Regions from separate parts of the Homo sapiens genome. Here all the other regions are linked to region 1. The links come from fine-mapping of genetic effects on gene expression. A gene starts in region 1. Each other region holds a variant in brackets. All regions are shown on one strand. Distances are from middle to middle. Region 1 holds the start of ICAM3 (intercellular adhesion molecule 3). Region 2 holds the start of LIMASI (lncRNA inflammatory and mucous response associated, antisense to ICAM1). Region 3 holds the start of ZGLP1 (zinc finger GATA like protein 1). Region 4 has its middle 4.9 kb from the start of QTRT1.

Region 1 (7,934 bases):
AGCCTTGCCAACATGGTGAAACCCCATCTCTACTAAAAATACAAAAATTAGCCAGGCATGGTAGCACGTGCCTGTAATCCCAGCTACTCAGGAGGCTGAGGCACAAGAATCGCTTGAACCCAGGAGGCAAAATTTGCAGTGAGCTGAGATAGTGCCACTGCACTCCAGCCTGGCGACAGAGAGAGACTCTATGTCAAAAAAAAAAAAAAAAAAAAAAAGGCTGGGCAAGGTGACTCATGCCTGTAATCCCACCACTTTGGGAGGCCGAGGGAGGCGGATCACTTGAGGTCAGGAGTTTGAGACCAACCTGGCCCATATGGCAAAACCCTGTCTCTACTAAAAATACAAAAATTAGCCGGGCATGGTGTCACACGCCTGTAATCCCAGCTACTAAGGAGGCTAAGACAGGAGAATCACTTGAACCCAGGAGGCGGAGGTTGCAATGAGCTGACATCGCGCCATTGTACTCCAGCATGGGGGACAATAGCAAGACTGCGTCTCAAAGAAAAGAAAAGTCAAAAAGTAGGCCAGGCATGGTGGCTCACGCTTATAATCCCAGCACTTTGGGAGGCCAAGGCGGGCAGATCATTTGAGGCCAGGAGTTTGAGACCAGCCTGGGCAACATGGTGAAATCCTGTCCCTACTAAAAATACAAAAATTAGCTGGGCGTGTTGGCATGCGCCTGTAATCCCAGCTACTCAGGAGGCTGAGGCAGGAGAATCGCTTGAACCCGGAAGGCAGAGGTTGCAGTGAGCCAAGATTGCGCCACTGCACTCTAGCCTGGGGGACAGAGTGAGACTCTGTCTCAAAAAAAAAAAAAAAGAAAAGAAAAGAAAAAAAAAAGTAGCCAGGCCTGCAATCCCAGCTACTGGAGAGACTGAAGTGGGAGGATTGCCTGAGCCCAGGAGTTTGAGACCAACCTAGGCAACATAGGGAGATCCTGTCTCTAAAATAAAGGTATAAAAAAGTGTAAATGTAAAACCTCCATTTGCCTACTGCTGACTGAAAGGGGTACCCCCTTTTTTGCTTAAGAGACAAGGGTCTTGCTTTTTTGCACAGGCTGGAGTGCAGTGGTGCAATTATAGCTCACTACAGCCTTGAACTCCTGGGCTCAAGCGATTCTCCCACCTTGGTCCCCCAAGTAGCTGGGACTTCAGGCATGTGCCACCATGCCCAGCTAATATTTTTTATTTATTTTTGTAGAGACGGGGTGTCCCTATATTGCTCTGCCTGGTCTTAAATTTCCGGACTCAAGCAATCCTCCTGCCTTGGCCTCCCAAAGTGTTGGGATTATTGTTGGGGCCAGGCGCAGTGGCTCACACTTGTAATCCCAGCACTTTGAGAGGCTGATGTGGGCGGAACACCCCGTCTCTACTAAAAATACAAAACTTAGCTGGGCATTAGCTGGACCTGGGAGGCAGAGGTCGCAGTGAGCCGAGATTGCACCACTGCACTCCAGCCTGGGCTACAGAGTAAGAGACGCCATCTCAAAAAAAAAAAAAAGCTTGTTGGGGCCGGGCGCAGTGGCCCATGCCTGTAATCCCAGCACTTTGGGAGGCTGAGGTGGGCGGATCGCCTGAGGTCAGGAGTTCAAGACCAGACTGGCCAACATGGTGAAATGCCATCTCAACTAAAAATACAAAATTTGCTGGGTGTGGTGGCGTGCATGTGTAATCTCAGCCACTCGGGAGGCTGAGGCAGGAGAATCACTTGAACCCAGGAGGCGAAGGTTGCAGTGAGCCGACATCGTGCCACTGCACTCCAGCCTAGGCAAAAAGAGCGAAACTCTGTCTCAAAAAAAAAAAAAAAATGCTTGTTGGGGCCCAAGTTAATTGATTTCACAACTGCTGCCTTGGCATGAGATTGAGATGCGTCTCTATATCTCTGTCTCTGTCTCTGTGTCTCTGTCTCTGTCTATCTTTGTATCTCACACACAAATGTCCAGGTCTGAGCTCTGGGTCAGAACTGTGGTCCATTCTTTGCAAACTGAGGGTCCCCACTCTCCTGAGCCATTGGCCACTTGCCCACACCACTACCCAAGACCAGTCCCACCTCCGGACACGTCGACTCACTGTACACGGTGATGTTAGAGGAGCCTGTTATCTGAGAGCCATTGCAGTACACTGAGCAGAGGATCCGACTGTTGCCAGTCACGTTGCTGAGATTGAAGGCTGCCCAGCCCATGCCACTGGCCACCAGCTCCTTTGATAGGGACGTCTCCAAGGCGATTTTCTCAGAGCTGGGACAATCAGTACTGCAGTTCACAAACAGGGACCCTCCAGCAGAGAGCACAGGGTTCTGGGGCTCCACCCGCAAAAGGAACTCCTGCCCCTGGACACCTTCAGGAACATGAAGAAGTCCTGGTGTTTGTTTCCTTGTCCCCCAACCCACGCATCAACAGGCCCCACCATTTAACACCTCTCTCCTTGTGCCGAGACAGAAGGGTTCCTGCCTTCATGGTCCAGTGGGAAAGGTAGAATCCATCAGAGACCGGGGAGAACTCAGAAGGAGGCCAGAAGAGGCTCTGATCCAGCATAGGAGGAGGTGAGTCAGGGAAGGCTTCCTGGAAGCGGGGACCATTGCAGCCCGAAACTGAAGGCTAAGTAGGAGTTAGCAAGTGAAAGGGACAGGTGATCCTGGCAGAGGGAAGCACATACGCAAAGGGCAAATTTCAGGAGTTCAGATGGAGCAGGAAGCATGAGGGGTGTGTGTGTGTGTGTTAGGGGAGAGGGATGGCGTACAAGCCTATGCTGGGGCCTGACCACCTGAAGGCTGAACTAAGGAACCAGAACTTTCTCCCGAGGATACAGAGTCAGCGGCCAGGTCGCAGTGTGGCAGGATGTGAACAGCGTTGCGTTCTATTCCTCTACCCTCTACTGATCCCCAAAACGCAGCCCTCTCCAGCCCTCCCCGGCTTGACTGGTCTCACCTGGGGTCAGCAGACAGCAGACCAGCAGAGTCCAGCAGGCCCTGGGCCACAACACGGATGGTACCATGGTGGCCATTCTGACAGAGGAAGGTGCCTTCCTGAGGTGCCCGAAGGGCAGGCAGGGGAAAAGGCGGGGCCTCCCACTGCGACGGAAGCACAGCGGTTAAGATTGCAGAAGTCTGGGGACTGCACCTTGCCCAGGCCTGTGGGTGGAAGGGGATGCTGTGGCCCTTGGGGGCCAGGGTGGGGGACCCAGACGGGGCTCTGCAAAGTGGCCAGCACTGCTGAGTCTCCCCCAGGGAATGGGCTGGTCCCAGTTGCACTGCTGGCCCCCATTTGAATTCACAGGAAATGCTAACTAAACTGGTTTCTTTTGTTCTCAGCACTGGGAAGCCTGGGTGGGGGGGATGAGGCATCTCCTTCTGGCTGAACTTAGGTGGGTAGGGGAATATTCTGTCCCCAGAGAGGAAGTTAATGGGGAAAACTGTAGGCACCATTGTGTAGATGTTAAGGTGGGATTTCGAGGAAACATTAAAAAACAAAAACAAAAACAGAAACAGAAGCAGAGTCTTGCTATGTTGCCCCGACTGGTCTTGAACTCCTGGCCTTAAGATGGCCTCCTCTCATCTTGACCTCCCAAAGTGTTGCGATTACAGGCGTGAGCCACCACGCCTGGCCACCTTTGAAGATCTTGAGGATACCTCCCTATCTTTGAAGATCTTGGGGATCCCCCATCCCCTGCACAAAGAGCTAAGGTAGGTGATTTGGGGACAGCTGAGTCCCTGAGCCACTGTCTATCCAGGATTCTACTTGGTTTTTGTTTGTTTGTTTTGAGACAGAGTCTCACTCTGTCACCCAGGTTGGAGTGCAGTGGCGGGATCTCGGCTCACTGCAGCCTCTGCCTCCCGGGTTCAAACGATTTTCCTGCCTCAGCCTCCCGAGTAGCTGGGATTACAGGCATGTGCCACCACGCCCGGCTAATTTTTGTACTTTTTGGTAGAGACGGGGTTTCACCATGTTGGCCAAGCTGGTCTCAAACTTCTGACCTCAAGTGAGCTGCCCGCCTTGGCCTCCCAAAGTGTTGGGATTACAGGCGTGAGCCACTGCGCCCGGCCTTCCAGGATTCTACTTGTAACTGGCCTTTACCCCATCCTGTTGTCCCCTTGCCCACCCTTCCAGGCAGCTGGTCACTGCATTCCAAGGGAAGGCGCCAAGGGGACCAGGTGGGACCCCCACCTTTGACCTGCCTCTGACCTCAGGCCTCTGACCTGCCTTCTGGGCTTCACATCTGAGCTCCAGAGAGAGAGGCCTTGTTGAGAGCCTTGATGGGGCCCTGCACTCACCCACTTTCCCCAGACCTTGAGGTCACAGCACCTCCTCTCTCATCTAGAGCACCCCCACCTTCCTAAGCAGGTCCCTCCTCTATTCCTCTACCTTCCGAACAATCCATTTCCCACCTGGTGTTGAGAGAGCAGCTAAAACCCAAGTCTAGTGTATTTGTAAACAGCAGGGACCAGTAGCATGGGCCTGGTGCCTGTAGTCCCAGCTCCTTGGAAGGCTGAGGTGAGAGGATCGCTTGAGCCTGGGAGGTCAAAGCTGCAGTGAGTCGAGATTGTGCCCCTGCACTCCAGCCTGGGAGACACAGTGAGACCCTGTTTCCACAAAAAAAAAAAAAAAAAAAAAAGATGTCGGACTTACTGGCTCACGTCTGTAATCCTAGCAGCACTTTGGGAGGCTGAGGTAGGTGGATGACGAGGTCAGGAAATCGAGACCATCCTGGCTAACACAGTGAAACCCCATCTCCACCAAAAATATAAAAAATTAGCTGGGCATTGTGGCGGGCACCTGTAGTCCCAGTTACTCAGGAGGCTGAGGCAGGAGAATCACTTGAACCCAAGAGGCGGAGGTTGCAGTGAGTGGAGATTGTGCCGCTGCACTCCAGCCTGGGTGACAGAGCAAGACTCTGTCTCAGAAAAACAAACAAACAAACAAACATATATATATAATTTATAATACTTACGTAATAGTGAGACCCTGTCTCTAAAAATAAAAAAGAAAGAAATATTTGTAAATAAGTCATATTTCTTTTTTGTTTTTTGAAACAGAGTCTCACCGTGTCGCCTAGGCTGGAGTGCAGGGGCACAATCTCAGCTAACTGCAATCTCAGCCTCCTGGGTTCAAGTGATCCTCCCACCTCAGCCTCCCTAGGAGCTGAGACCACAGGTACACACCACTGTGCCTGGCTAATTTTCTGTAGAGACGGCTTTCACCATATTGCCCAGGTTGGTCTTGAACTCCTAAGCTTAAGGGATCTGCCTGCCTCGACCTCCCAAAGTGCTGGGATTATAGGCGTGCCCTGCTACACCCGCCAGTAATATTTCTGATAAAGAAGTATTTCTGGGCCAGGTGTGGTAGCTCACGCCTGTAATCCTAGCACTTTGGGAGGCTGAGGCGGGCAGATCACGAGGTAAGGAGATCGAGACCATCCTGGTTAACACGGTGAAACCCCATCTCTACTAAAAATACAAAAAAAAATTAGCCCCGTCTCTACTAAAAATACAAAAAAAAATGGTGGCAGGTGCCTGTAGTCCCAGCTACTCGGGAGGCTGAGGCAGGAGAATGGCGTGAACCCAGAAGGCGGAGCTTGCAGTGAGCCGAGATCGCGCCACTGCACTCCATCCAGGCTGGGCAACAGAGTGAGACTCCATCTCAAAAAAAAAAAAAAAGAGTATTTCTGGGCCAGGCGTGGTGGCTCACACCTGTAATCTTAACACTTTGGGAGGCCTAGACAGGCGGATCCCTTGAGGTCGGGAGTTCCAGACCAGCCTGGGCAGCATGCCAAAACCCTGTCTCTACTAAAAATACAAAAAATCGGCCAGGTGCAGTGGCTCACGCCTGTAATCCCAGCACTTTGGGAGGCCGAGGCGGGCGGATCACGAGGTCAGGAGATCGAGACCATCCTGGCTAACACGGTGAAACCCCGTCTCTACTAAAAAAAATACAAAAATTAGCTGGGCATGGTGGCGGGCGCCTGTAGTACCAGCTACTTGGGAGGCTGAGGCAGGAGAATAGTGTGAACCCGGGAGGCAGAGCTTGCAGTGAGCTGAGATTGCGCCACTGCACTCCAGCCTGGGCGACAGAGCGAGACTCCATCTCGAAAAAAAAAAAAAAAGTACAAAAAAATCAGCCAAGCTTGATGGCACACACCTGTAGTCCCAGCTACTCAGGAGGCTGCAGCGGGAGGATTGCTTGAGCCCGGGAAGTGGAGGTTGCAGTTAGCTGAGATTGTGCCCCTGCACTCCAGCCTGGGCGACAGAGAAAGGTCACCTACACATGTTTAAGGGGCCTCTGCACATATCTCAAGCCATTGACAAGAAAGCAAGTACAGTCTGGATTGCAAACAATGTATAATTTAAGCTCCAGCTGATTTTTTTTTTTTTTTTGAGACAGGGTCTCAGTCTGTCACCCAGGCTGGAGTGCAGTGGCATAGTCTGGGCTCACTGCAACCTCTGCCTCCCAGGTTCAAGTGATTCTCCCGCCTCAACTTCCCAAGTAGCTGGGATTACAGGCATGCACCACCACACCCAGCTAATTTTTTGCATTTTTAGTAGAGACGGGGTTTCACCATGTTGACCAGGCTAGTCTCAAACTCCTGACCTCAGGTGATCCGCCCGCCTCGGCCTCCCAAAGTGCTAGGATTACAGGCGTGAGCCACCGCGCCTGGCCTCCAGCTGATTTTTGACAGCCACATTGTTGCTATAGGATCCTTTTTACGTGTGATGGTGATGGTCTCTGGTTCTCCTCATTCCCACAAAGGTTGTTGAACCACAGCACCAGTAACACTGAGAATGCTAAGGGCTCTAGCCCAGGCTTTCTCCCAGGTTCTCTGGTGTGCGCCCTCCTGGTGACAATGAAATTGAAGCTAATTGCTTTCACTGGTTGAGTCTCTGATCTTGAGTGGCTGTGTCCACATTTCATTTTTTTTTTTTCTGGTAGGAATAACTACTTTTCTGCATCCATGCTCCATAGACTCTGTCCTTTTCAGACATCCTGGGATAAAAAGATTTGGCTTTTTTTTTTTTCTTCTTCTTCCTGAGACAGGGTCTGGCTCTGTCTCCCAGGCTGGAATGCAGTGACATAATCATGGCTCACTGCAACCTTGACCTCCCAGGCTCAGGTGATCCTCCCACCTCAGCCTCCCTAGTAGCTGGGACTATAGGTGTGTGCCACTACACTCGGCTAATTTTTGTATTTTTTCTACAGAGGAGCTTTTGACATATTGCCCAGGCTGTTCTCGAACCCCTGGGCTCAAGTGATCCTCCCAACTCAACCTCCCAAAGTGCTGGGATTATTACAGGGGTGAGCCACTGTGCTGGGCTTTCACTCTTAGGCTATTAAACAATGAAGGTAGTTATTGATCCTATCTCTTTCATATTCTTCTTCTTTTTTTTTTTTTGAGAATGAGTCTTGCTCTGTCTCCCAGGCTGGGCTCACTGCAATCTCCACCTCCCAGGTTCAAGCGATTCTCCTGCCTCAGCCTCCTGAGTAGCTGGGATCACAGGCGTGCGCCACCACACCCAGCTAATTTTTGTATTTTTATTAGAGACGGGGGTTTCACCATGTTGGTCAGGCTGGCATATTCTTCTTTCTAAGAACTGAGAGTGAGGGGGCTGTATTGAATCTCTTCATGCACCAGGAACTGAGTTCTGAAGATGATCTTATTATTATCAGTATTTTTTGAGATGGGTTCTCACTCTGTTGCCCAGGCTGGAGTGAGGTGGTTCAGTCTTGGCTCACTGCAACCTCTGCCTTCCAGGTCCAAGCGATTCTCCTGCCTCAGCCTCCCAAGTAGCTGGGATTACAGGCGTCTGCCACCAGGCTTGAGCTACCACGCCCAGCCAAAAGAGCATATATTATGTATAGAAATAATAAGACGAGCCAGGTGCGGTGGCTCATGCCTATAATCCCAGGACTTTGGGAGGCTGAAGCGGATGGATCACCTGAG
Region 2 (7,934 bases), 60 kb before region 1:
ATGGTGAAACCCCGTCTCTACTAAAACTACAAAAAATTAGCCGGGCATGGTGGCAGGCGCCTGTGGTCCCAGCTACTCAGGAGGCTGAGGCAGGAGAATGGCATGAACCCGGGAGGCAGAGCTTGCAGTGAGCCAAGATCGTGCCACTGCACTCCAGCCTGGGCGACAGAGCAAGACTCCATCTCAAAAAAAAAAAAAAAAAAAAGAATTGATAACAGCTGTGCTGCCAAGGCTATTGGAACGTAGGAGGTCCTAGGACAGTGCTGTTGGGAGCATAAATAAGCCCAACCCTGTGGCGGGAAATTGGGCATCAGTTCTCAAAATGTCATGGGCTGGGCACGGTGGCTCACGCCTGTAATCCCAGCACTTTGGGAGGCTGAGGGAGGCGGATCACTTGAGGTCAGGAGTTCGAGACCAGCCTGACCACCATGGAGAAACCCCGTCTCTATTAAAAATACAAAAAAAACTAGCCAGGCATAGTGGCACATACCTGTAATCCCAGCTACTCGGGAGGCTGAGGCAGGAGAATCTCTTGAAACTGGGAGGCAGAGGTTGCGGTGAGCTGAGATTGCGCCACTGCACTCCAGCTTGGGCAACAAGAGCAAAACTCCATCTCAAAAAAAAAAAAAAAAGAAATAAAAGAAGGTATGTTGAATATGAGTGGTATGCCACCCTCACATTAGGGAAGGGCAGTTTCGGGGAGGCTGTATTTATGTATAAAATAGCCCTAAAAGGAAGTGGGAGAAATGACAATATTAGCTGGCTATGAGAAGAGAGGCTGGGAGGCTGTGGGAGAGGGCTTGGGTGTGGAGAATTCTTTTTGTTTTTTCCTTTTTTTGAGACAGAGTTTCACTCTTGTTGCCCAGGCTGGAGTGCAATGGCACGATCTCAGCTCACCGCAACCTTCACCTCCTGAGTTTAAGTGATTCTCCGGCCTCAGCCTCCCGACTAGCTGGGATTACAGGCATGGGCCACTACGCCTGGCAAATTTTGTATTTTTAGTAGAGACAGGGTTTCTCCATGTTGGTCAGGCTGGTCTTGAACTCTGACCTCAGGTGATCCGCCCGCCTCGGCCTCCCAAAGTGCTGGGATTACAACGTGAGCCACTTTGCCTGGCTGAGAATTCTTTTTTTGTTGTTGTCTTTTTGAGATGGAGTTTTGCTGTGTCCCCAGCCTGGAGTGCAATGGTGTAATCTCAGCTCACTGCAACCTCTCCCTCCCGGGTTCAAGCAATTCTCCTGCCTCAGCCTCCCAAGTAGCTGGAATTACAGGCGCCCAGCACCACGCCCGGCTAATTTTTGTATTTTTAGTAGAGACGGGATTTCATCATGTTGGCCAGGCTGGTCTTGATCTCCTGACCTTGTGATCTGCCCGCCTCGGCCTCCCAAAGTGCTGGGATTACAGGCGTGAGCCACTGCCCCCAGCCGAGAATTTCTCTTTGCGTCCTTCCTACTTTGGGGACTTCGAATGGTGGGAAAGAGTTATCAAGGCCAAAATAAGGAATTCAAATGAAAACAAAACAAAATCAAAGAAGAAAAAACAGAAGAGCACTGGGCAGGCTAGGCACGTGGCTCATGCCTATAATCCCAGTGATTTAGAAGGCCGAAGTAGAAGGATCGCTTGGAGGCCAGGAGTTGGACACCAGCCTGGGCAACATAGCAAGACCCCATATCTACAAAAAATAAAAAACCTAACCAAGCGTGCTGGCATACTAGTAGTCCCAGCTACTCAGGAGGCTGAGGTGGGAGGATCACCTGAGCCTGGGAGGTCCAGGCTGTAGTGAGCCGTGATGACACCACTGCACTCCAGCCTGGGTGACAGAGAAAGACCCTGTCTCTAAAAAATAAAAACTGGCCAAGTAGCTTTGGGATTAGCCTTGGGTTCCAGTCCCAGCAAGGCCTTTAATAGCTTGGGACATGACTTCTGCATTTACTTTGCAATCAGGTGAGACCTCCTCTGATGGGGAAAATGACACGGTGAGTGACAAAGGATGTTCTCCTATCATTGTGTCAGGGCAAGGAAGCCTCTGGGTAAATGATCAAATGATCAGCTTTGCTTCTGATTTGGAGGGTGGGTGAGCAGATGCTGACCTTCCCAGGTGAGGGAAGTCCCCGAACATTCCCAGCAGCTTCTGGAAACCCCAGGGAAACCTCTTTGAAGGTCTTTTCTGCATCTCTGCCTGATAGGTCTTTTTTTTTTTTTTTTTTTTTTTCTTTTTTTTGACACACAGTCTTGCTCTGTCGCCCAGGCTGGATCACTGCAACCTCCATCTCCCGGGTTCAAGCAGTTCTCCTGCCTCATCCTCTCCAGTAGCTGGGATTACAGGCACCTGGCACCACGCCTGGCTAATTTTTGTATTTTTAGTAGAGACAGGGTTTCGCCAAGTTGGCCAGGCTGGTCTCGAACTCTAGACCTCTGGTGATCCACCCGCCTCAGCCTCCCGAAGTGCTGGGATTACAGGCTTGAGCCACCACGCGCGGCTCTGCCTGATAGCTGAGAGCATAGAACTCCAGGTTTGAGACCTGGCTCTGCCACATTTCTCCCTCTATGACTGTGGGTGCCCCACTTTGCCTTAGTTTTTACCTCTGTGAAATGGAGCAGATGGCTGGCACAGGTAGCAAAGGAGTAAAAGTTATGTGGGAGGGTGGTACCTGAGAGAGACTCTAGCTTGGTCTTGCCCCACCCCTGGTGTAAACATAAAGAAGCCTCCCTGGATGGCTCAATCTTCTCCAAAAAGGTTAGAGGTGTAATTCCTAGAGGAGGCGACCACTAGCTGGGCTTTGAAGGATGTGTAGGAGTTCATAAGGACAGGCATTCTGGGCAGGAGGAACAGCCTGGGCAAAAGTTGGGAGCAGGGAGAAATCTTGATGGAGGCAGGAGGAGGAGGAGGTAGGTTGGTGTAGGCCAGGTGCAGTGGCTCACACCTGTAATCCCAGTGCTTTGGGAGGCCAAAGCAAGAGGATTGTTTGAGCCCAGGAGTTCGAGACCAGCCTGGGCAACATAGCGAGACCCTGTCTCTAAGAAAAAATAAAAAAATTAGGGTACAGTGGCATATGCTTGTATTCTCAACTACTCTGGAGGCTCAAGTGGGAGGATCACTTGAACCCAGGAATTTTTTTGTTTTTGTTTTTGTTTTTTTGAGATGGAGTCTCACTCTGTGGCCCAGGCTGGAGTGCAGTGGTGCCATCTTGGCTCACTGCAGCCTCCTCCACCTCCTGGGTTCAACCGATTCTGCTGCCTGAGCCTCCCGAGTTGCTGGGATTAAGGTGCCCACCATCATGCCCAGCTAATTTTTTTGTATTTTTAGTAGAGATAGGGTTTACCATGTTAGCCAGGCTGGTCTTGAACGCCTGACCGCAAGAGATCCTCCTGCCTCAGTTTCCCAAAGTGCTGGGATTATAGGTGTGAGCCACTGAGCCTGGTCAAGCCCAGGAATTTGAGGTTACAGTCAGCTATGATTGCACCACTGCATTCCAGCCCAGGTGACAGAGAGAGACACTGCCCCTAAAAAAAAAAAAAAAATTGATTGATGGGAGGAAGGGTGAGGTTGGCAGAGCCTTGAATGCCAGGTGGAGGAGCTGGGACTTTCCTTCTTGGGGTGATAGGGAGTCATGGAGGGTTTCTGAGCAGGCCAGGGATTAGATAGCTGAAGGCTGGATTTACTGGAAGCCAATGAGCAGTTGGCTATGGTCCTTGTCCACGCGGCCCATGTTGTGGGCAGTGACCGTATTCAAGAAGGGAAGGACAGACAAGTATTTGAATACTTCAGTGACCAGGATTTGGTAAAGGACTGCAGGTCAGGGTCAAGAAGAGGTGAGAGCAGGACAGACTTCCTCCCCGCTGCACCAGGCAGCTGAGCTGGGTTTCCTCTAGGGGCTGAGGTTTGAGGGTACCTCAAGTTCTGCAAGAGTCTATAGGAGGTGGTAAGAGAGAAGAGCTGGAGGTCAGAGTTTTCTTGACTATATATATATATATTTTTTTGTTTTTGTTTTTAACAGCTTAACAGCTTTCTGTTTTATTTTTAGAGACAGGGTCTCAGGGTCTCACTTTGTCACCCAGGCTGGAGTGCAGTGGTACAATCGTAGCTGACTGCAGCCTCAAACTCCCAGGCTCAAGAAATCCTCCTCCCACCCTTAGCCTCCTGAGTA[G/A]CAGGGACTACAGGTGTGAGCCAGCAGGAAGCCCAGCTGGTTTTTTTTTTTTCTTTGGTGTTTTTTGTTTGTTTGTTTGAGACCGGAGTTTCGCTCTTATTGCCCAGGCTGAAGTGCAATGGCAGGATCTTAGCTCACCACAACCTCCGACCCCCAGGATCAAGCTATTCTCTTGCCTCAGCCACCTGAGTAGCTGGGATTACAGGCATGCGACACCACACAAGGCTAATTTTGTATTTTTAGTAAAGACAGGGTTTCTCCATGTTGGTCAGGCTGGTCTCGAACTCCCAACCTCAGATGATCCACCTGCCTCGGCCTCCCAAAGTGCTGAGATTACAGGCATGAGCCACCGTGCCCGGCCTTTTTTTTTTTTTTTTTTTTTTTGAGACAGAGTCTCACTCTGTCGCCCAGGCAGGAGTGCAGTGGTTCGATCTGGGCTCACTGCAAGCTCCGCCTCCCGGGTTCACTCCATCCTCCTGCCTTAGCCTCCTGAGTAGCTGGGACTACAGGCGCCCACCACCACGCCTGGCTAATTTTTTGTATTTTTAGTAGAGACGGGGTTTCACCGTGTTAGCCAGGATGGTCTTGATCTCCTGACCTCGTGATCCGCCCGCCTTGGCCTCCCAAAGTGCTGGGATTACAGGCGTGAGCCACCATGTCTGGCCTGGCCAGGCTGGTCTTGAACTCCTGACTTCCGGTGATCCATCTGTTCTGGCCTCCCAAAGTGCTGGGATTACAGGCATAAGCCACCACGCCATGCCGAAGCCCAGCTTGTTTTTAATTTTTTTTTTTTTTTTTGGAGAAATGAGGTCTTGCAATGTTGCCCAAGCTAGCCTTGAACTCCTGGCCTCAAATGACCCCGCCTTGGCATCCCAAAGTACTGGGATTACAGATGTGAGCCACCATGCCCCAGCCTTGCTTTCTTGAGATACGATTTAGAATACCATAAGATTCATCCCTTTTAAGCACATAATTCAATGACTTCTGTACAAACAACCATGACTACAATCTAATTTTAAAATATTTCAATCACTCTAAAAAAGAAACCTCCTGCTTATGTACAGCGACTCTGTCTACCTCTTAAGTGAATTCTCCTACCTTTAATAGCCCTATTTTACAGTTCAGGAAACTGAGGTTCAGAGAGACAAAGTCACTTACCCACAGCAAAGAAGCAAGGCTGGGTATCAAATGCAGGACCCCCCCGGTCCTGATGCTTTTTTTTTTTTTTTTTTTTTCCTCTGAGAGAGACTCTCACTCTGTCACTCAGTCTAGAGTACAGTGGCGCGATCTCAGTTCACTGCAATCTCTGCCTCCTGGGCTGAAGTAATCCTTTCCTCACAAGTAAACCTCAGCCTCTCAAGTAGCTGGGACTACAGGCACACAACACCACGCCTGGCTAATTTTTGTATTTTTAGGTAGAGACGGGGTTTCACTATATTGGCCAGGCTGGTCTTGAACTCCTGACCTCAGGTGATCCGCCTGCCTCGGCCCCCCAAAGTGTTGGGATTACAGGCGTGAGCCACCACACGCAGCCTTTTTGTTATTAGACTCTGTCATTACTGACTTTTTTTTTTTTTTAATAGAAACAGGGTCTTTCTTTCCCAGGCTAAAGTACAGTGGCATGATCACAGTTCACTATAGCCTTAAACTCCTGGGCTCAAGTGATCCTCCTGCCTCAGCCTCCCAAGTAGCAGGGACTACAGGTGTGCACCACCACACCCAGTTAACCATTCATTCATTCATTCATTCATTTATTTTGAGATGGAGTCTCGCTCTGTCACCTAGGCTGGAGTGCAGTGGCACGATCTCAGCTCACTGCAACCTCCACCTCCCAGGTTCAAGAGATTCTCCTGCCTCAGCCTCCCGAGTAGCTGAGACTACAGGCGTGCACCACCATGCCAGACTAATTTTTGTATTTTTAATAGAGACGGGGTTTCACTCTGTTGGTCAGGCTTATCTCGAACTCCTGACTTCGTGGATCCACCCTCCTTGGCCTCCCAAAGTGCTGGGATTAAAGGCGTGAGCCACCGCGCCCTGCCAACCTTTTTTTAATTTTTCTTAGAGATGGGGGTCTCCCTATGTTGCCCAGGCTTGTCTTGAACTCCTGGCCTCAAGTGACCCTCTTGCCTTGGCCTCACAAAGTGCTAGGATTACAGCCTGAGCCATCACACCTGGCCAACAGGTTTTTTTTTTTGTTTTGTTTTGTTTTTTAAAGAATGTCTAGGCCAGGCTCATTTACTTTCACCTGTAATCCCAGCACTTTGGGAGGCCGGGGTGGGCAGATCACTTGAGGTCAGGAATTCGAGACCAGCCTGGGCAACATGCTGAAACCCCGTTTCTACTAAAAATACAAAAATTAGCTGGGTGTGGTGACACGTGCCTGTAATCCCAGCTACTCAGGAGGTTGAGGCAGGAGAATTGCTTGAACCCAGGAGGCAGAGGTTGCAGTGAGCCAAGATCATGCCATCACCCTCCAGCCTGGGCGACAGAAGGAGACTCAGTCTAAAAACTTAATTAATTAATTAATTAAAAATAAAAATACAAAAATTAACCTGGTGTGGTGGTGTGTGCCTGTAATCTAAGCTACTCAGGAGGCTGAGGCAGGAGAATCCCCTGAATCCCAGAGGCAGAGGTTGCAGTGAGCCAAGATCGAGCCACTGTTTGCCCAGTCTAGTGCACTGGGCTGCTGAATTTATTTGACCAGACACCTAGCAATAGACTTTGAAGTTCTTTTCCACTTTTCACTCTAAGATGCTGCTGTCATGAATAAGGAATATTTTGATCCCCTTCACAAACACTCGGGGCCCTCTTACCAGTTTTCACTGAAGATCTTGACATTCCTATCTGCTTAGGTGTCTGGGCGTGTTTGGGGGAGATACTGAAGAGGTAGGGCTCCCAGGCAGGTGCAGTTCGTCTGTTAGGCAGGCAGCAAGGTCCACTTCACCAGACACCCCCACCTCTGTTTTCCTGCAGGGACTCCAGAACGGGTGGAACTGGCACCCCTCCCCTCTTGGCAGCCAGTGGGCAAGAACCTTACCCTACGCTGCCAGGTGGAGGGTGGGGCACCCCGGGCCAACCTCACCGTGGTGCTGCTCCGTGGGGAGAAGGAGCTGAAACGGGAGCCAGCTGTGGGGGAGCCCGCTGAGGTCACGACCACGGTGCTGGTGAGGAGAGATCACCATGGAGCCAATTTCTCGTGCCGCACTGAACTGGACCTGCGGCCCCAAGGGCTGGAGCTGTTTGAGAACACCTCGGCCCCCTACCAGCTCCAGACCTTTGGTGAGGATTGAAGAAGCCAGCAGGGAGAAGGTGGGGGTGGGGTATCCTGCAATGCGGTGCCTGTGGCCACAGGATCTTTTGAGATGGGTGTGGCCCCGGCTAAGGGGTGCATGTGTTCTAGGCGTATGTGACCTAGGCTGCTGAGTGGCCCTGGAAGAGGATCTCGCAGGAGGGGGAATGAAATGCCCCAGAGAAGGGCTTCGGGACGTCCATCCCTGTCTGCTCACACCTTTCTTCTCTCCCTAGTCCTGCCAGCGACTCCCCCACAACTTGTCAGCCCCCGGGTCCTAGAGGTGGACACGCAGGGGACCGTGGTCTGTTCCCTGGACGGGCTGTTCCCAGTCTCGGAGGCCCAGGTCCACCTGGCACTGGGGGACCAGAGGTTGAACCCCACAGTCACCTATGGCAACGACTCCTTCTCGGCCAAGGCCTCAGTCAGTGTGACCGCAGAGGACGAGGGCACCCAGCGGCTGACGTGTGCAGTAATACTGGGGAACCAGAGCCAGG
Region 3 (7,440 bases), 27 kb before region 1:
CTGGCATTGAGGAGTCCGGGATTGGCTCGGCCTCCATTGCGCCCCAGCCCAGCCCCCTCCCTAATTTCACCCGGCCCTGTCCCGCTGGGCCCACCCGATGAAACCCACCTGGGAGGGGCGGGACCTGTGTGGTGGGAGCGCTCTTGGTAGAGGATGCGATGAGCCCCAGCTGAGAGCGACCAGCCTCGGCGGCACCTTTCCTCTTTCTGGCTTTTTTCAGGTCATCCGCGCACCCCTGCGTGGCAAGGGCGGCCTGGACCCCACCAAATCCCTCCGCAGCTGCCGGGGCGGGGCCTTCCACGCTAGCCCTCCCCCTCGGAAATGGGGGCTCCCAGGCCTCTGCCTTGGATCCCCAGCGGCATCTTAGATCCCAGAGGGAAAAGAGAACCGGGGGCCCAGCACAGCAGATGCAGGTGTGGTTTGTTTTTGTTTTTGTTTTTTTTTTTTTTGAGACAGGGCCTCACTCTGTCACCCAGGCTGGAGTGGAATGGCCTGATCACCGCTCCACTGCAGCCTAAATCCCCTGGGCTCAAGTGATCCTCCCACCTCAGTCTCCCGAGTAGCTGGGACTACAGGCACTTACCACCACTCCACGCTAATTTTTACTGTTTTTATAGAGACGAGGTCTCGCCATGTTGCCCAGGATGGTCTTAAGCTCCTGGCCTCAAGTGATCCTCCCATCTTGGCTTCCCAAAGTGCTAGGATTACAGGTGTGAGCCACCTGTAGACCCCAGATCTGTCCCCCAAGGACACTCAACATGCTGGGGCCTGTGTTATCGATTTATTGCAGCTCCAATATGAGTCCACTCCTACTCAAACCCTGATTCTCAGGGGCCTGGGGAAGGCCACCCCACTAGGGGCCCTGTCCCCACCAGAGCCTGGACATGGGACTCTCTCCCAAGCAGGGGTGTTGTCCTTCACAGGGGCTTCCACGTCTCTCCCGGGCCTGTCCGCACTCTGGGCAGGGCTGGCACCTGGCTATTCCCTCAATCTGGGCCCTGGGGCCATGGCAATGTGGAATGGTCCAGGTGTTCATGTCAGTGGGGCTTGGGGACATGGCCATCCACGTAGAAGTTCCTGGTGATCTTGGGCAGGGTGAATTCCGCTCCTTCCAGCTCCGGTGTCAGCACAATCTGGCAGCCCAGCCGCGAGTTCTCCTGGAGGAGGGGGGCCATGTCTAGCATGTCGTCTTCCCTAGGGTGGTGACACGGGCAGTGTTAGCCGAGGGCAAGCTAGCTGGGTGGGTGGGGGGCCAGAGGTGGGGGAGGGAGGAAGCTGACTGAGCGCAGGGGGTAGTGGTGGGGGAGGCAGCTCCCATTCCAGGAACTGGAAGTGGGGAGGATGGTGGGGGCTGCTGAATGCTCCAGGGTGAAGCTGCCAGCTAGACAGGGCTGACCCACTCACCTCTCCTCGGGAGGAGGCAGGAGATCCAGGTGGTCTTCACTCACATACACATGGCAGGTGGAGCAGGCCAGGGAGGCTTCACAGGCCCCTAGGGGTGGGAAGTGAAGGGGGCGCAGGTGAGTGGCAGAGTCAGGAAGGGGCTGCTATGCGAATGGCGTAGAGGAGTAGACCTCTCTTCCACCACGTGCCTCACGTCTCCCTCCTGGGCCTGCAGCTCCACTGTGTGTACCAGGCACTGTGTCATGTCCTCAATGTCCTCAGCTAGCTGTTCCCCAGTGTGTAGGGTTTACAAACGGACATCTGGGAGGCCCCATTTCCCAGGGACTCCCTAGCAGGCTGAGATGCAGAACCATTAAGGAGCAGGGACTTGGCTGCCAGGTAGCTGAGAGGGGAAAGGCCAGGCAGGCTCCCCGCAGTCTGTGAGCCCTTGCTGTGACCCTATCACTGTGCTGGGCTAATGTGTCCCCACCTCTCCACTGCTCTTGGAGGATGGACCGGCTGACTCAGCAGTCAGTGTGGTGGGGGAAGGAATCAGGCATTAGGATTTTGTTTTTTTTTTTTTTGAGATGGAGTCTTGTTCTGTTGCCCAGGCTGGAGTGCAGTGGCACGATCTCGGCTCACTGCAAGCTCTGCCTCCCGGGTTCACGCCATTCTCCTGCCTCAGCCTCCCAAGTAGCTGGGACTACAGGTGCCTGCCACCACGCCTGGCTAATTTTTTTATATTTTTTTAGTAGAGCTGGGGTTTCACCATGTTAGCCAGGATGGTCTTGATCTCCTGACCTCATGATCTGCCCGCCTCAGCTTCCCAAAGTGCTGGGATTACAGGCGTAAGCCACTGCACCCGGCCAGGATTTTTTTTTTTTTTTTTTGAGACAGGGTCTCACTCTGTTGCCCAGCCTGGAGTGCCATGGCTCAGTCATAGCTTACTGCCTCAACCTCCCGGCTCAAGCGATCCTCCCACCCCAGCCTCCCGAGTAGCTGGGACTACATGTGCGCACCACCACACCTGGCTA[ATTT/A]TTTTTTTTTTTTTTTTTTGAGGTGGAGTTTCGCTCTCTTTGCCCAGGCTGGAGTGCAATGGTATGATCTCGGCTCAATGCAACCTCTGCCTCCCAGGTTCAAGTGATTCTCCTGCCTCAGCCTCCCAAGTAGCTGGGATTACAGGTGCCCACCATCACGCCCAGCTAATTTTGTATTTTTAGTAGAGATGGGGTTTTGCCATGCTGGCCAGGCTGGTCTTGAACTCCTGACCTCAGGTGATCCACCTATCTCGGCCTCCCTAAGTGCTGGGATTACAGGTGTGAGCCACCGCACCTGGCCATATTTTTTTTTTTTTTTTTTTTTTTTGTAGAGACGAGGTTCACCATGTGGCCCAGGCTGGTCTCAAACTCCTAAGCTCAAGCAATCTGCCTGCCTTGGCTTCCCAAAATGCTGGGACTACAGGCATATGCCACTGCACCAGACCAGGAATTAGGGTTGAAAGAGACAGAACCTGAAGTTTTCTGCTGACCACCTGCCCTTGGTCACACCCCCACATCCTCTGATCACAGAGACCGGTGCTTGGGGATCATGTCCCTCCTGGCCTAAAACTTTCCAAAGGGTTTTCACACTCAGAATAAAATCCAAACTCCTTCACTTAGTCTTGCAGTTCCCCCATCCCCCTCATTCATTCCTTTGTTTTCCTTTGTAATTTTTTTCTTAGAGATGGAGTCCCGCTCTGTTGCCCAGGCTGGACTGCAGTGGCGTGATCTCGGCTCACTACAAGCTCCGCTTCCCGGATTCACGCCATTCTCCTGCCTCCGCCTCCCAGAGCAGCTGGGACTACAGGCGCCTGCCACCATGCCTGGCTAATTTTGTTTTTGTATTTTTAGTAGAGACAGGGTTTCACCATGTTAGCCAGGATGGTCTTGATCTCCTGACCTCGTGATCCGCTCGCCTCAGCCTCCCAAAGTGCTGGGATTACAGGCGTGAGCCACCACACCTTGCCAGGCCACTTACCTCTACTAGCCCGGCACAGTGGCTCATGTCTGTAATCCCAGCACTTTGGGAGGCCAAGGCAGGCAGATCAACTGTGGTCAGGAGTTTGAGACCACCCTGGCCAACATGGCGAAACCCCATCTCTATTAAAAATACAAAAACTTAGCCGGGCATGGTGGCAGTTGCCTGTAATCCCAGCTACTCGGGAGGCTAAGGCAGGAGAATCACTTGAACCCTGGAGGTAGAGGTTGCAGTAAGCCAAGATCATGCCATTGCAGTCCAGCCTGGGTGATAGAGCGAGACTCTGTCTCAGATAAATAAATGAACAAATAAATCTATCTCACATTCCAATCCCTGTCCTAGACTATTGGCTGCTGGATTCCAGAACAGAACTTTAGGTAGGCCTTTCATAACCCCTCCCAACATATCTTCCCCTTTAATGATAAAATCAGGATCCCTGATATATTCATCCCAAAAGCAAACCCTATATATTTTCTTCCAGACAACCCTTCCCAAGTTGGTCATAATTATGTATTTACCTGTGGGATTATTGTCCCTATTAGACCGAAATGGATGTGAGATGACAGAGGCCTTATTTGTTTTGTATATTGCTGCCTGACGCGCAGTAGGTATTCATAGAAAGGCAGCACAGATTAGTGGCTACAATGGACTGGTGAGTCTAGTATTGTCACTCACTTGCCCTTAGACCAGGTCTACTTAACCTGGGGTTTAGTTGCCTCATCTATAATAGGGAATAACAGTCTCTACTACTCAAGTTGTCATGAAGATTCAGTCAGTGAATATTTATTAACATGGTTAAAGACATATATATATATATATATATATTTTTTTTTTTTTTTTTTTTTTTTTTTTTTTTTGAGACAGTCTCACTCTGTCGCCCAGGCTGGAGTGCAGTGGCGTGATCTTGGCTCACTGCAAGCTCCACCTCCCGGGTTCATGCCATTCTCCTGCCTCAGCCTCCCGAGTAGCTGGGACTACAGGCGCCCACCACCACGCCCACCTAATTTTTTGTATTTTTATTAGAGACGGGGTTTCACCATTTTAGCCAGGATGGTCTCTATCTCCTGACCTCGTGATCCGCCCGCCTCGGCCTCCCAAAGTGCTGGGATTACAGGCGTGAGCCACCGCGCCTGGCCTTTTTTTTTTGTTTGTTTGAGACAGAGTCCCGCTCTGTCATGCAGCCTGGAGTGCAGTGGTGCCATCTTGGCTCACTGCAACCTCTGCCTCCCAAGTTCAAGTGATTCTTGTGCCTCAGCCTCCCAAGTAGCTGGGATTATATGCATGTGCCACCACGCCCAGCTAATTTTTGTGTTTCTTGTAGAGACAGGGTTTCGCCATGTTGGCCAGACTAGTCTCAAACTCCTGTCCTCAAGTGAGTCGCCTGCCTCGGCCTCCCAAAGTGTTGGGATTACAGGCATGAGCCACTGTGCCTGGACAAGAAATTTCTATTATTATTTTTCTCTCAACAAATTATCAAACATCTGTTACATCTTGACAGGCAACAGATAAGCATGAATAAGGACATGGGTCACCAATCTCACTGGGGGACAGATGACAAAGTAGGAAACAAAACAGCCTGGCATTGTGGCTTGTGCCTATAATCCCAGCTACTTGGGAGGCTGAGGTGGGAGGATCACTTGAACCCAGGAGTTCAAGGCTGCAGTGAGGTATGATTGCATCATGGCACTCCAGCATTGGCGACACAGCAAGGCTCCGTCTCTTGAAAAAAAAAAAGTGAGAAGTGCTATATATCATATCACACTGATAAGACAGAGTAACTAGGGCATGGGTACTTCAGCTGGGCTGAGGGGAATGGGATTGTTAGGGACATGACATTTACACTGAGGTCTGAAGGATGAGAAAGAGCCAGAATGTTTGCTGGGAAAGCACTTCAGACAGAGGGAACAGCAAATGTAAAGGCCCCGAAGCAGGAATGAGCTTGGTTGTTTGAGGAACCACAAGAAAGCCAGTGTGGGCTGGGCGCGGTGGCTCATGCCTGTAATCCCAGCATTTTGGGAGGCTGAGGCGGGTGGATCACCTTTCAGGAGTTTGAGACCAGCCTGGCCAATGTGGTGAAACCCCGTCTCTACTAAAAATACAAAAATTAGCTGGGCTTGGTGGTGGGCGCCTGTAATCCCAGCTAGTCTGGAGGCTGGGGCAGGAGAAACGCTTGAACCCGGGAGGTGGAGGTTGCAGTGAGCTGAGGTGCAGTAAGCCATTGCACTCCAGCCTGGGCAACAAGAGTGAAACTCCATCTCAAAACAACAACAACAAAAAGAAAGCCAATGTGGCTAGAATACAGGGAGGAAGGGGGAAGAGAACACAAAATCCTGGGAGCCAGGAGTCCTAGTGATCTCTAATAAATGCTTAACAAATAAGAGCTTGGCAACAGATGAGGCCATGGTGAGGGGTTTGGATTTTAGTCCATATTTGGTGGGAAAAAGACGTGAAGAGACACACCTAATTTGTGGGTTTTTTTTTTTTTTTTTTTGGACAAATGTATAAGGACCTCCTTAATTCCCTCTGCCCGGTTCCTACCTTCCAGGTCCACCCCGTGGCGCTGGGCCAGGTGAAGAACATTGTCCCCGACTCTGCCACTCACTGGGATCCGCTGGCCTGAGCGGTCTACGAACACCACGTTCACCCTGGGGACAGATGGAAGTGCGAATGCCGAACTGGATGATGGGCTCAGGGCCCGGGTAGAATCTAGGGTTAGGAAGTAGGAATTGAGGCTTGACGCACAGGTACTGAATAGGGCAAAGCAGAAGGGGGACCTCGAGATGAAGCTACAGGGCAAGATGGGGACCAGAGGAATTCCGTGGGATGAGGAATGGGGGACTTGGCCCCCTGCACTCACACGTCCCCGGGCCGCTCCGGGCCGCCCGCGTCCTCCTCTCCAGCCGGGCGCGAGCCTGGAAAACACGGTTCGGTGAGCGGCTGCGCCGAGCCCCGCCCCGCCGGCATCTGACGGATTAACGCTGCCCGCCCCGGGCGCCCCAGGTACCTGTCGCTTGAAACTTTCTGGTTGTCCCCAGCGCCACCCCCTCCCCCGACCCGGAAGTGCCCCCAGGTCTGTTCCACCAGGTGCCCCTGGCAGCCTGCAGTAGAACCCTGGCACTCACGCCTCCCCGGGCCATGGAGGCGGCCATGACATGCATCACGTGACTCACCGACTGAGCATGCGCCGCGCCAGGGAGGCGAGGGAAAGCCCATAATCAATGGAACATAAGCGCAGATGTTTGCTTAGGGCCTGCGGTGACCAGGTGGGAAGAGCAGGGCGGAATCCATCTCAGGTAAACCCGCGGGGCCATCCCAGACCTCCCACTCAAGCCCACTGTTTGTCCCAAGAACCAGCCAACTCTGATTTCTTTAAAACCATTTACTTACAAACTTTAATTCAGCAAAGGTCCGTGTGGGGAGACTGGGGTGGGGTCGGGGGAATAGTCCCCTTGGAGTGGATGTGGACCCCCAGAGTCAAGGGAGGGAAGCTGGTGGCCCAGTTGGCTGGGGGCAAGGCCCAGGGTCACCTCAGGTCGACAGGTCCTGCTGGTGGGCGGGCCCAGAGTTTATCTTCATGGAGTGCTGGTTTCTGGCACTGGGCTGGAAGGAGGCCAGCTCCAGGGATCTGGCCGGGGGTGGGCAGGCAGAATTCAAGAATTCATCTTCAACAAGCGAGTGACAGCAGAGGCTCCGGGAGATGGGCACAATGTCCGACTCCCACAGACAGACAGCAGGGGACTGGCAGAGAAAGCCCATCTCTGCACGGAGGCCCGGGTAGGAGGGGGTGGTGGGGCCGGTTCGCCAAGATGAAGGCTTTCCCCTTCTACTGTCCCCAGGGTGGAGATCCTGGGTAGGGTGGCCCAATCCCTAGGCCAGAGCTGTTTGGTCCATAGTCAAGCTCCCAGAGCTTGGCATCTGTGGCTCTGGCCAGCAGGGCCTGGGGCCCAGCTTTTAAGGCATCAGAAGGGGAGGGGGCTGCGGCAGGGACCCCGGGCCCCACGGCTGGGGTATAGGCCAGATGGGCAGGCAGGGGCAGGAGAC
Region 4 (7,607 bases), 360 kb after region 1:
GTGCCCTGCTGTCGTGTTTATTATTGCACAGTGATTACATGTCAAGTCTGGTGCTGGTTGCTGGGAACGAAATGGTGAACCTGCTCCCAACCCACATGTAGCTTCCAGGCACAAAGAGGGCTGTGTCACAGTGGGACAGGAAGTGCCTGTCAAGGCTTTCCCCTCAGGTGAGAGGATGGGTGAGTTGGACCCAAGAGTGTTAGGAAGGGAAGGGGAGGCCAGGCAGAGGGAATAGCTTGAGCAAAAATTCAGCTGGGGGATGAGGATGGGCTTCAAGAAGCTGAAGTCAGGTGGGTAGAGCATTTTGATGCAAAACAAAGGAATGCTGGGAAATGAGGCTGGAGGTCAGTGGGATCTTGAGGGCCCCCAAGTGGAGTGCCAGGCACAGGAGTTCTTGCCTTCTTTCTAAGGACAGTGGGGAGCCATGGATGGATTCTGACCTGGGAAGACTTCAGGCCCATTCAGGCTCCCAAGAGTATATATTTGTTTATTTATTTTACTTATTTAGAGATGGAGTTTCGCTCCTGTTGCCTAGGCTGGAGTGCAATGGCACGATCTCTGCTAACCACAACCTCCGTCTCCCGGGTTCAAGCGAGTCTCCTGCCTCAGCCTCCTCAGTAGCTGGAATTACAGGCATGTGCCACCAAGCCTGGCTAATTTTGTATTTTTGGTAGAGACAAGTTTTCTCCATGTTAGGCTGGTCTCGAACTCCCGGCCTCAGGTGATCCATCTGCCTCGGCCTCCCAGTGCTGGGATGACAGGTGTGAGCCACCGCACCTGGCTGTTTATTTTTTAAGATGGAGTCTTGCTCTGTCGCCAGGCTGGAGTGCAGTGGAGCAATCTCGGCGCACTGCAACCTCCGCTTCCCAGGTTCAAGCAATTCTCCTGCCTCAGCCTCCCGAGAAGCGGTAACTACAGGTGTGTGACACCATGCCCAGCTAACTTTTGTTTGAGACAGAGTCTTGCCCTATCACCCAGGCTAGAGTGCAGTGGCATGATCTCCGCTTACTGCAACCTCCGCTTTCTGGGTTCAAGTGATTGTCCTGACTCAACCTCCCTAGTAGCTGGGATTACAGGTATGCACCACCATGTCCGGCTTTTTTTTTTTTTGAGACGGAGTCTCACTGTCGCCCAGACTGGAGTGCAGTGGCATGATACCGCTCACTGCAAGCTCCGTCTCCCGGGTTCACGCCATTCTCCTGCCTCAGCCTTCCGATTAGCTGGGACTACAGGTGCCTGTCACCACGTCCGGCTAATTGTATTTTTAGTAGAGACGGGGTTTCACGTGTTAGCCAGGATGGTCTCGATCTCCTGACCTCATGATCCGCCTGCCTCGGCCTCCCAAAGTGCTGGGATTGCAGGAGTGAGCCACCGCGCCCAGCCAATTTTTTGTATTTTTAGTATTTAGTATTTTTAGTATTTAGTATTTAGTATTTTTGTATTTTAGTTCCACCTTGCTGGCCAGGCTGGTCTCAAACTCTTGACCTCGTGATCCACTCGTCTTGGCCTCCCAAAGTGCTGGTATTACAGGCGTGAGCCACACGGCGCCTGGCCTACAGTTTTTTTGTTTGTTTTGTTTTGTTTTTGAGATAGTCTCTCGCTCTGTTGCCCAGGCTGGAGTGCACTGGAGTGATCTCGGCCCACTGCAACCTCCGCATCCCGGGTTCAAGTTACTCTCCTGCCTCATCCTCCCGAGTAGCTGAGATTACAGGTGCCCAGCATTATGCCTGGCTAATTTTTGGATTTTTAGTAGAGATGGGGTTTCACCATGTTGGCCAGGCTGGTCTTGAACTCTTGACCTTGTGATTCGCCTGCCTCAGCCTCCCAAATTGTTGGGATTGCAGGCGTGAGCCACCGCTCCCAGCTGAAACTATTTTTTAGACAGGGTCTCGGTCTGGTATGCAGTGGTGCCATCATGGCTCACTCATCCTCCTGAGTATCTAGGACTACAGGCCTCACTGCCTGGCTAATGTTTGTTTTTCTTCATAGGGGCAGGGTCTCAGGTTGATGTCCAATTCTTGGCCTCAAGCCATCCCCTCTTCAGCCTCACGAACTGTTGGAATTAACCATTGTGAGCCACCGCGCCTCAGTACAGTTCTTTTGGTTGCTGAGCTGAGTAGGTGTATGGGAGAGGTGAGAATGGGGGCCCTGGAGACGACAAGAGGCTTGACTTTTGGAACATCGGAGCTGAGGTTTACAGTGATTTTTGCAGCTGAGTCCACTGGTCTTGATAAGGGAAGAGTTTCTAGACTCAAGAGGGTTAAAAACGGTATGTCAAAGAAAAGGGGCCCGTCCTTCTCATTCTCAGGGAGACCAGCATTCTCTCCACGGAGTAGCCAAGAAGTCCATGAACTCCCAGGTCTTGGGCCAGTGCTTTTGTCTTCTCAAAAGATCTGGCGCCTAAGGTCTTCTTGCTTGGCAACAGGGCAGTAGGTGGGTGGCAATGTCACAGAGGGACGGTCCCCACACGTCCGATGAATAAACTGGAGAAATCCTCCAGGCTATCGAGACGACCACCCGAACTCAGGGCTCCAAGGACCATTATTTCAGCAAAACCCCTAACTCTCCTCTCCTGAATGTTCTGTATTCCTCAGTCAGTGCTCAGAAGTCCGTATCCTGGACCCAGGACCTCAGCACCCGCTCCCTAAGGCCAACCATATAGTCCCCTGTTTGGGGGCTCCCCTGAGCAGTCGCGGGCGATCCCAGAGAAGGCAAGTTTCGGGATCTGACAGCCCCAGTCACGACCCTGGGTGCTGCGCAAGCCTCCATGTGAAGAGCGCGGAAACCGCCCCAGGCCTAGCTGCTGCAAACCACCGCTTCCAAACTTCCCGCCGGTCTCTAGGCTCCGGGTGCCCACCGCCCCTTCCTTCCTTCCTTTGCGCAATCAACAAGCTCCAACTCCAGATGGGATTTCGCAGGCCCTGCCCTGTGTATAAACTCTCTTCGTCCTGGGGTTGTCAACAAAATTTTTTTTTGGAGACGGAGTCTCGCTGTCGCCCAGGCTGGAGTGCAGTGGCGCGATCTCCGCTCACTCACTGCAACCTCTGATTCCCTGGTTCAAACAATTCTCCCGCCTTAGCCTCCTGAGTAGCTGGGATTACAGGCAAGCGCCACCACGCCCGGCAACAAACTCTTCTAATTGGCCGGACTCGCAGGCCCCGCCCCCACAGAGTGTGCCACTGCGTGGAGCGCGCCGCTCCTCATAGGGCGCTTGCGCAGGCTCCGCTCCCTGAGCGGCCGCTTTCCTGGTCTCCAGGCAACGCGTACGGCGCTGTCCACTGTGCTGAAGCCGCACACCAAGCGCCGCCTCTAGCTGCAGGCTCACGGCGCCCCCAGCTCTCCTAAGTGGGCGGTGCCAACACCCTAAAGCAGGGACCACTAAGCCTCCTTTGCGCCCTATCCCCAGTTTATCTCTTGGTAATAGGTAGAGCCCACTTCCCTCCACGTTGGCTGAGAAAGCCCTACCGTCCCATCCAGCTCAGAGGAAAGCCCAAGGCTTCCCGCGATTTCATGCCGTCACCTCCACACCCTCATCCGCTCACCTCCAGCCACACTGACCTCCGCGCTCACAACAGACAATCCAGACACATTCCCACCTCCAGGCCTTTGCTCTTAACTGTTCACGAGGCCTGGAGTGCTCTCTCCGATTCCGCATGACTCCTCCATCCTCCTTTCAGGCTCAAATCCCACCGTCTCAGTGAGCCCAGCCCTGACTATCCTGTCCTACTGAACACATTGACCTCTCT[C/A]TATATGTATGTATGTATATAATTTTATTTTTAGTTTTTTCGAGACAGGATCTTGCTCTGTTGCCCAGGCTGGAGTGCAGTGGTGCGATCATAGCTCACTGCAGCTTCCACCTCCCGGGCTCAAGCTATCCTCCTGCCTCAGCCTCCCGAGTAGCTGGGACTACAGGTGTGCAGCACTGCGCCCGTATAATTTTTGTATTTTTAGTACAGCAGAGGTTTTCGCCGTGTTGCCCAGGCTGGTCTCCAACTCCTGGGCTCAAGCGATCTACCTGCCTCAGCCTCCCAAGGTGCTGGAATTACAGGCGTGAGCCACTGCATCCGGACTAGAATATATTTGTTTAAGTGGGTGGATTAAGCCTCTTTTGATAATTGTTGAAGCTGGGTCATTGGTTACAAGGTGATAACTATGCAATTCTCTGTCCGTTTGTCTATGCTTGAAAAGTGTGTAATGAAGAATGTCAGGTGGCACAGTGATCTCCAGGAGGGGCAGAGAACCAGCATCAGGGGCTACACAGCTAGTGGTGGTACCCCAACGCCAACCCCACACATAGCCCAATCTCACAATGACTAAGTACAGAGACTGTAGTTGATGCTACAAGGATTACTGTGGCTGGAGACCAGATGTGCAACCACCTATAAACTTCCTGAGTGTAGCTTCAGTTTTGACATAAACTGTTCTTATTTTCATGAATCTCTGTGACATGGATGTAGCTGCCTCCAACTCCTGTCCCTAGTGTTTTCGAGCCCAAGGGCCTGTTTCTCCTTATCATTGGCTTTTTTCTTTTTCTTTTTCTTTTTTTTTTTTTTTTTGAGACGGAGTTTCACTCTTCTTGCCCAGGCTGGAGTGCAATGGCACGATCTCGGATCACCACAACCTCCATCTCCCAGGTTCAACCAATTCTCCTTCCTCAGCCTCCTTAGTATCTGGGATTATAGGTATATGCCACCATGCCCGGCTAATTTTGTATTTTTAGTAGAGATGGGGTTTCTCCATGTTGGCCAGGCTGGTCTCAAACTCCCGACCTCAGGTGATCCGCCCGCCTCAGCCTCCCAAAGTGCTGGGATTACAAGTGTGAGCCACTGTGCCCGGCCACCACCACTGGCTTTTGATCCAAATTGTGAATGGCAGAACCTGAGCCTTGTGCAGCCTGGCTGCAGGGCAGGCTGGGAAAGTAACTGTCAATTATAACTTCTATGGAAAGGCAGGCTTAGCCTTAAAAAATATGACATTCTCTCAATGCAGGGGTGTATGAGCGGGGTCAGGTGTTAGGTGGCCAAGAAAAGAAGGGGCTATACTAGCTTCAGAACAGCAAATCCAGGCAACCCTTAATCCAATCAGCCATTCATCCAATCATGGTGATTGCATTCTAAAATGCAGAGGATTCCCTCCAACATCCCAGAAGCTTTGGATAACCAAGAATTGCAGGCAGGTCAGAGCTCCAAGATAAGGTCACCCAGAAAAGAAAGAGACTCACTTTGGATAAGATAATGAAATGCTGTTTTTGGAACCTAAACCACTGAGAGGCAACATTGGCTGCACACAGAAATTCCTTGAGGCTTAAAACAAAAAACAAAAGAAAATTGATGACTGAGTCTCATCCCCATAGATTTTTTTTTTTAAGAGATGATCGGCCAGGTGCAGTGGATCACACCTGTAACCCCAGCACTTTGGGAGACTGAGGCAGGTGGATCACCTGAGGTCAGGAGTTCGAGACCAACCTGGCCAACATTGCAAAACCCTGTCTCTACTAAAAATACAAAAAATTAGCTGGGCATGGTGGTGGGCGCCTGTAATCCCAGCTACTTTAGGAGGCTGAGGCAGGAGAATTTCTTGAACCCGGGAGGTGGAGGTTGCAGTGAGCCGAGATCGCACCATTGCACCCTAGCCTGGGCGACTCTAATTTCTGGCCTCAAGCAATCCTCCTACTTCATCGTCCCAAAGTACATAAGCTACTCACCATAGATTTTAGTTTAAGTTGTCTGGGCATAGAGATAGTTAAAAACTCCACAGGTAATTCTATGTGCAGCCAAGAGTGAAAAACAGTGGTTCTGAAACGAGTGGGCATCAGAATAACACAGAAAGCTTGGCAAGAAGCAGACTTAAACACATATTGGCCAGGCGCTGTGGCAATCCTCCTGCTTCAGTCTCCCAAGTAACTGGAATTATGGGTAATTTTTTAACTTTTTTTTTTTTTTTTTTTTTGCCATGTTGCCCAGGCTGGTCTCTAACTCGTGGGCTCATATGATCCACCCACCTTGGCCTCCCAAAGTGCTGGAATTACAGGCGTGAGCCACTGCGCCTGGTAAACATTTTGAAAAATAGAAATATTAGCTGGGCACGGTGGCTCACACCTGTATCCTAGCACTTTGGGAGGCCTAGATGGGTGGATCGCTTGAGGTCAGGAGTTTGAGACCAGCCTGGCCATCATGGTGAAACCTTATCTCTACTAAAAACAAAAATTAGCCGGACGCGGTGGCTCACACCTGTAATCCCAGCACTTTGGGAGGCCAAGGTGGGAGGATCACCTGAGGTCAGGAGTTCGAGACCAGACTGGCCAATATGGAGAAACCCTGTCGCTACTAAAAATACAAAAAAATTAGCCAGGCGTGGTGGCGTATGCCTGTAATCCCAGCTACTCAGGAGGCTGAGGCAGGAGAATCACTTGAACCCAGGAGGTGGAGGTTGTAGTGAGCCAAGATTGCACTATTGCACTCTCCAGCCTGGGCAACAAGAGCAAAACTCCGTCTCAAAAAAAAAAAAAACAAAAAACGGCCGAGTGCGGTGGCTCACGCCTGTAATCCCAGCACTTTGGGAGGCCAAGGCAGGTGGATCACCAGGTCAGGAGATCAAGACCATCCTGGCTAACATGGTGAACACCGGTCTCTACTAAAAATACAAAAAATTAGCTGGGCGTGGTGGCAGGCGCCTGTAGTCCCAGCTACTCAGGAGGCTGAGGCAGGAAAATGGCGTGGACCTGGCAGGCAGAGCTTTCAGTGAGCAGAGATTGTGCCACTGCACTCCAGCCTGGGAAGCAGAGCAAGACTCCATCTCAAAAATAAAAAAAAAATTAGCCGGGTGTGGCAGCAGGCACCTGTAATCCCGGTTGCTTGGGAGGCTGACGTAGGAGAATCGCTTGAACCTGAGAGGCGGAGGTTGCAGTGAGCTGAGACTGTGCCACTACACTCCAGCCTGGGCAACAGAGTGAGATTCTGTCTCAAAAAAAAAAAAGAAGAAAAGAAAAGAAAGAAAAGAAATAGAAAAGAAAGGATGAGTGTTGTAGACAAAGGCAGGTGCAAAGGCCCTGAGGTTGGCTTGCTGGTGGGCAGGGGTGTTTTCCAGGCGGGTTTTCCGGGTGTGGCCTTACTAAGGATGCCCCACCATCTGGGCAACCGGCATCCTTAGCCTTTCTTACAGGATAGGGGGCTTGAGGCTCCCTTAGACACCCTCTTGGCCAGAGTAGCTCAGTTTAAGACAATTGAAAGGACATCTTCTGGGACAATAGCGCTCTCTGCTGGCCAGGACAGATATCAGATCCAGTTGTAATGATAACAATTACTATATAATATTGTATATTATTATTATCTTTTTTTTTAGGGTTTCGGTCTCACTCTGTTGCCCAGCCTGGTGTACAGTAGCCCAATCATAGCTCACTGCAGCCTCCAACTCTTCAGCTCAAGTGATCCTCCTGCCTCAGCTTCTTGAGTAGCTGAGACTACAGGGGCGTGCCACCACACCATGTTAATGTTTTTGTTTTGATTTTGTTTTTGTTTTTGTTTTTTAGATGAAGTCTCGCTTTGTCGCCCAGGCTGGAGTGCAGTGGCGCAATCGTGGCTCGACCTCCGCCTCCCGGGTTCAAGCGA

The links. PIP is the estimated chance that this variant, and not a neighbour inherited with it, causes the effect.
Region 2: its variant is fine-mapped to the expression of ICAM3 in whole blood (TOPMed, PIP 0.94).
Region 3: its variant is fine-mapped to the expression of ICAM3 in whole blood (INTERVAL, PIP above 0.99).
Region 4: its variant is fine-mapped to the expression of ICAM3 in whole blood (INTERVAL, PIP above 0.99).

Annotation. Positions count from the first base shown.
Region 1 is chr19:10,336,610-10,344,543 of GRCh38, forward strand. It overlaps ICAM3 (intercellular adhesion molecule 3), which reads right to left and starts at 3,015. Exons shown (of 7, transcript NM_002162.5): 1 at 2,930-3,015; 2 at 2,073-2,339. The coding sequence starts at 3,005. RefSeq lists enhancers at 1,621-2,369, 2,655-2,754, 2,975-3,024, 3,118-3,865, 3,866-4,613.
Region 2 is chr19:10,276,360-10,284,293 of GRCh38, forward strand. ICAM1 (intercellular adhesion molecule 1) reads left to right here. Exons shown (of 7, transcript NM_000201.3): 3 at 7,122-7,427; 4 at 7,674-7,934. LIMASI (lncRNA inflammatory and mucous response associated, antisense to ICAM1) reads right to left here and starts at 7,091. Exons shown (of 4, transcript XR_007067138.1): 1 at 6,962-7,091. The variant G/A (reference allele first, on the strand shown) is at 4,149.
Region 3 is chr19:10,309,449-10,316,888 of GRCh38, forward strand. It overlaps ZGLP1 (zinc finger GATA like protein 1), which reads right to left and starts at 367. Exons shown (of 5, transcript NM_001409033.1): 1 at 1-367. The coding sequence starts at 37. It overlaps FDX2 (ferredoxin 2), which reads right to left and starts at 6,567. Exons shown (of 5, transcript NM_001397406.1): 1 at 6,404-6,567; 2 at 6,257-6,311; 3 at 5,938-6,044; 4 at 1,405-1,492; 5 at 597-1,194. The coding sequence starts at 6,548. The coding sequence ends at 1,038. FDX2-ZGLP1 (FDX2-ZGLP1 readthrough) reads right to left here and starts at 6,567. Exons shown (of 9, transcript NR_176052.1): 1 at 6,404-6,567; 2 at 6,257-6,311; 3 at 5,938-6,105; 4 at 1,405-1,492; 5 at 1-1,194. RAVER1 (ribonucleoprotein, PTB binding 1) reads right to left here. Exons shown (of 13, transcript NM_133452.3): 13 at 6,764-7,440. RefSeq lists a silencer at 6,202-6,321. The variant ATTT/A (reference allele first, on the strand shown) is at 2,418.
Region 4 is chr19:10,692,690-10,700,296 of GRCh38, forward strand. No RefSeq gene overlaps it. Among named protein-coding and RNA genes, the nearest start is that of QTRT1, 4.9 kb to the right of the region's middle. RefSeq lists an enhancer at 2,658-3,157 and a silencer at 3,114-3,373. The variant C/A (reference allele first, on the strand shown) is at 3,747.